Linked DNA regions of Homo sapiens: region 2 is linked to region 1. Evidence: fine-mapped expression QTL. Tissue or cell type: whole blood. Region 1 holds a variant in brackets; the other region holds the start of a gene. All regions are shown on one strand. Distances are between the middles of the regions.

What was found. PIP is the estimated chance that this variant, and not a neighbour inherited with it, causes the effect.
Region 2: it holds the start of HIVEP1, and the variant in region 1 is fine-mapped to the expression of HIVEP1 in whole blood (INTERVAL, PIP 0.94).

The regions. Positions count from the first base shown.
Region 1 is chr6:12,226,055-12,228,738 of GRCh38, reverse strand. No RefSeq gene overlaps it. Among named protein-coding and RNA genes, the nearest start is that of EDN1, 63 kb to the left of the region's middle. The variant T/C (reference allele first, on the strand shown) is at 1,116.
Region 2 is chr6:12,010,875-12,013,558 of GRCh38, reverse strand. HIVEP1 (HIVEP zinc finger 1) reads right to left here and starts at 1,247. Exons shown (of 9, transcript NM_002114.4): 1 at 993-1,247. RefSeq lists silencers at 1,093-1,232, 1,413-2,322 and an enhancer at 2,652-2,684.

The sequences.
Region 1 (2,684 bases):
CTCATTGGTTGGCCTAGAGAGGGGACGCCCTTCTGCAATTTATTCACCTCGAGATGAGAAGTTTCTACTTTGCACAACAGCCCATGCACAGAGCAGCATCTGTAAGCTTCAGCCATGCAGTTTCGTTTCCAGTACCCTCAGGCTGCTCCAAGAGCTCTTGCCTCTGGGCTTTTGAAGCGTTGCTCTTTCTTTACCTGGCTAAATACCATTTCTCCTTCAGGTTTCGGCTTAAATATCACTTCTTCCCCAAAGCCTCTCTGACCCCCAGGATGGTTACTGGCCACTCAGCACGCCATGCTTGCCTCTTTTCTAGCATTCATTCATTTACCCACTCACTTATATAATGATTATTTATTAAGCGCCAGCCAGAGTAAGGTGCCAGTGTATGGCAGTCCACAAGATGGACACAAGTCCTGTCTCTTGGAGCTAACAAAACATCAGCGAAGACAGGCATTAAATAAATCACTACACTTGGCCAGGTGTGGTGGCTCACGCCTGTAATTCCAGCACTTTGGGAGGCTGAGGTGGGCAGATCACTTGAGGTCAGGAGTTTGAGACCAGCCTGGCCAACATGGTGAAACCCTGTCTCGACTAAAAATACAAAAATATTAGCCTGACATGGTGGTGCATGCCTGTTATCCCAGCTACTCAGTAGGCTGAGGCAGGAGAACACTCGAACCTGGGAGGCGGAGGTCACAGTGAACTGAGATCACACCACTGCACTCCAGCTTGGGCGACAGAGCAAGACTCCACCTCAAAAAAAAAAAATTACTGCACCAAGAAATGTTTTATCTTAATTCTGAAGAGGCTCTAGGATGCAGTGGAAGTGTGTATCAAACTGGAGTAAGAGAATCACCCTTTGAGACTGTTTTGGAATTTTCTAAGTTCTTGTCTGTCTGCCTTCTGGGCTGTAGCATGCCTGAGCTCTAAATCTCATTTTTCTGAGTTATAGCCCCAGAGTTTAGCATAAGACACTCAATATGCACTCCATAAATTATAAATATTGCCGATATAAATATTACCATCTTGGAAATAGTCTCTACAAAGCTGTGTACTTTCTCACCTGTGACGAAACAGATTTTGAAGTACTTCTGTCCACAATTTTTATATGTCTC[T/C]GAATAGAGACAGTTAGTGGGGTGCACGTGTGGGAGAAGTCTTATAAAACTTGGGGCATTTTCTTTTTTAATATCTAGCCCCCCTTTCTTCCTCCTCCTTAGGAGGTATGAATCCTTCCCTGCCCCTCATCCCCCAGGCCTGAAGAACCTTTCCCCTTCCAACCCTCTCATAACTGGCTGCCACCATTTATGCCTTGCCTGAAGCTCATTCATACCAACTTGTTGATTCCCCCTGGTAGCTGCATTTTTAGACTTCTTTTCAATATCTAGCATGAAAGTTTGTATGTTCTGTAAAAGGAATGTCATGTGACTATGAAAAGTTAGGGGCACTTGAGATACGGGGCTCAGCATTGACATGTGAACTTCATTGCCTCACAAGTATTTGTGTTGTCATTGTGTGACAATACTGAGATATGTTACATATATTCTTTTGCATGACCCAAATACTGCCAATAATAAAATGTTTTTCTAGTTTTAATTCTTATTTAATATTCTCTTATTTTTAATTGACAAATAAGAATTGTATATATTACAGGCCAGGCGTGGTGGCTCACGCCTGTAATCCCAGCACTCTGCGAGGCTGAGGCGGGAGGATCATGGGGTCAGGAGTTAGAGACCAAGCCTGGCCAACATGGCGAAACCCTGTCTCTACTAAAATACAAAAAAAAATAGCTGGGCATGGTGGTAGGCATCTGTAATCCCAGCTACTAGGGAGGCTGAGGCAGGAGAATCGCTTGAACCCAGGAGGCAGAGGTTGCAGTGAGCCAAGATCGTGCCACTGCATTCCAGCCTCTGCAACAGGGTGAGACTCCACCTCAAAAAAAAAAAAAAAAAAAAAAGAATTGTATAAATTACAAGGTACAATAAGATGTTTTGATATATGTATACATTGTAGAAAAATTAAAGCTAATTAACATGCTAATTAACCTCACCTACTTACAAATTTTTTAGGGTGAGAATATTCAAAATTTACTCTTTCAGGTAAACAGGAGAAATAAGTGTTAGGGATCTATTGCATAGCATGGTGACCATAATTAATAATGATGTATTGTATACTGCAAAATTTCTAAGAGTAAGTTTTTAAACATTCTCACCACATAATAAAACTTTTAAATAAAAAATTACTGTTACTGAAGGCAAACTTGGTTAAACCAAGTTAAGATGAAACTGGTTTTTAAGAGGTTGAGGAGTCCTGAGTTGAAGGTACTACAAAATAGCTGCATGAGTTTCTCACCCTCTCCGTTACCACTCCCTTCCCCTTTGCTCACACATACCCAGGGATCCAGGGATCTAGGGCTCCTGGGCTATGGTGCCATCTGCCTTTGTATGTCCCTATCTGTGCTCCTATCTTTGCATCGGAATTTTGTCTTCAATCCTGCAGCTTGGCAGTTATGCTTTATGGCCCCAGACAGGCTGCTGACAGCACCCTCTAGATTCCCGAATCCCTGGGGAGCATGGACCTTATGGATGGGTGAAGAGTGTGTGTGTGTGTATATGCACATGCTTGTGTGTCCATGTGTTGGGGAGTCGTATTCAAGAAGATGGGTGAGAAGGAAGGACATGAGAAGA
Region 2 (2,684 bases), 220 kb after region 1:
ATCCGGAGCATAAATGTAAAATATGCACATTCCCTGTCCGTAAAGGCTTTCTGCTACCCCGTTCATTGCCTACCCACTGTCCCTAGCTGTCCATCCCATATTTAAATCCTTGTGGGGGGAAGTGGGTATTTCCAAAGACAGCAGCATTGTAGCGACTAGGACGAGTGATAAACCGTTCCTTTACGGGAAAGAAATAAATACTACATGGAGCAAAAACATGACACGATCAAAAAGCGTAAAGACAGTTGCAAGGAGAAAAAACATGAATGAATGTGGAGGGCGGAGCCTGGGAAAACCCCTCTGCAACGCTGCACTGAACAAAGCGCTTCGCATGCCAGGAGGAGGGGGGGAATGGAAGTGCCAGCTCAGGAAGGAGCCTGGAGTGGATGCAGAGAGCTGAGGAGGAGGAGGACGAGATGAGGCGAGCGCGGCAGCCCTGAGACTCCTCCTCGCCGCCTGCTCCGCCGCCGCCCCCTCCCCTCTCCAGCCAGCAACTCCTTCCCGAGCCCGACCCCAAGGCGAGCCCGAGCCGACCCGCACCCCAACCCACCGCCCCCTTCCCAACTGCAGCTGGCGCGCACTCCCAACCCGGAAAGAAACTACCCAGGTGGCCGGGAGTAAACAGGCACTTAGAGCAAAGAACGAAAGGGAAAGAAACCCACAAAGCCGGGAGGTTGGGATGCCGAGGCCTGGTCTCTTTCACCCCCCACCCTCTTGCAAAATGCGTCTGCGGCTGGAAGGCGGCTGGGGAGGCTGGGTCCCTCTGTACCTGCTCGGCTCGCGCGCGGCGAGGGCGCCCAGAAGTGCCAAGGGTCTCCCGCACGCAGCCATCCCCTCTGCAAGGTCGGCGGTTGCACACACACGCACACACACACACACACGCGCGCCCGCACGCCCCCCGCCCGCCGAAGGGATGTGCTCCTGCCCCCCCCCCCCTCCGCCCCGCCGCCCTCCCCAGCTGCAGCGCCCCCGCCGCGGAGCCCGCGCCGAACCTGCTGCCAGGACGCCCGGCGGAGCCGCTGCCGCTGCAGCCGGCCCTGGAGCTGCGCTGCTGATGGCGGCGGCCGCGGCTCGGGATCTCCGCGACCCCCGCGCGGCGGCGGCGGCGGCGCCTGGGATCCCTCCTTCACTTGACAACCCCAAACACAAACATAACCTCCTCCGGCGGCCGCCGCTCCCCGGTCCCCCGCTCCGTCCGCCACCCTGCCGCCGCCCAGCAGCCGCCACGCTGAAGGCCGGCGACTGGCGCTCACACCACCCAGCACTGAAATATTAAACAGGGGAGCGGGCCGGGGGGCGGGGGGGGGAGCGCGGGGCGCGCGGGCGGGGGCCGCAGCCGCCGGGCGGAGGAGGCGGCGAAGCTCGCCGGCGCCCGGAGCCACGGCATGATCGCGGCCGCCAGGGAGCCGGGCAGCCGGGCTGGGGGGCGCGCGCCGCGGCGGGGCGGGCGGACAGACCCTGGGGCCGCGGGGCCCGGGGCGGGAAGGACGGGCGCGGGCTTTACCTCTCCCCCGGGGCAGAGTAGGGCACGTTTAGCGTCTTTGGGGCCGGCGGGAGGAACGCGGGCCGGGCGGCGCGGGGGAGGCAGGGCGAAGGTCGGAGGCTTTCCCGCGGGTGGGCGGGGCGGCAGGGGATCCCCGGGGGCGGGAGGAGGGGAGGCCGCGGGCGGCGACGCGTGGGCGGGGGAGGGGGCGTCCCCGCGGGGGCTGGGGTTGAGGCCGGGGCGAGGGGCGCGGGACGCCCAGGCGCCGGGGCCCAGCTGGGCCGGCGCGGCCGCCAGCTCTGACCGGGTGTAGGGACTGGATGGGCGCCCGGCCCGGCACGAACCCGGAGCCAGTGCCCCGGGTCTCCCCGGCGGGGCGGGCCCCAGACCGCGCCGGCCCCGCCACCTACCCGCCGCTTCGCCCCTCCCCGCCCCGCCCGGCCGAGCCGCCGCAGGGACGGGAGGGGGACGCGGGAGGAGGTGGCAGCGCAGCCCGGGGGGGAGGGGCGGGGTTAGGGACGCGGGGGGCGGGAGCCCTGGGTCGCGACGCCTGGGGAACCAGCACACGGCGGGGGCGGAGGGGCGGGCCCGGCCAGTCACGCGGCCCCGGGAAGGCCTGGCGGGGTCGCTCAGTTGGGGGCGGTTGGTCCGGGAAGAGGGACGGGACGGGCGGGGCCGTAGTTTCTCTTTACCGTCTCTTTACTTTCTACAGCAGGATGTGGGCCGGCCGCTGACGTCATGGGGTCTCCCGGCCCCGCCCCTCGCCCGGGCAGAATGGGGGAGGGGGAGGCGGGGGGGGGGGGGGACCCCAAGGGGGTTTCCTCAGCAACGCGTAGAAGGAAGGGGAAAGTCATTGTGAAACTTAAAACTCATTAACTTTGAAAAACAACTTTTAAAAAAACGGAGGGGGCAGGGTGTTGGTTTGGAGAGTGGAAGGGGACATGTTAACCCTGAACTGAAACCACTTTTTGGTGGCGGATGTTCTATTAAAAGAGCGAGGAAAGCCAAGGTTATTCCAGAGGCCGCTCCAAAGCCCCGCTGGTGCTTCCCAGTGCCGAAGCTGCGAGCGCAATTAACCCCTGCCTGCCAGCCTGACAGCTTATAGGGCCAACCCGGGAGGGGACTTCGGGGACAGAAAAGGGGGGTGCGGGGCTGGTCGTCGGACCGGGCTCCAGGGAAGAGGGGAGAGCGTGAAAGGGGA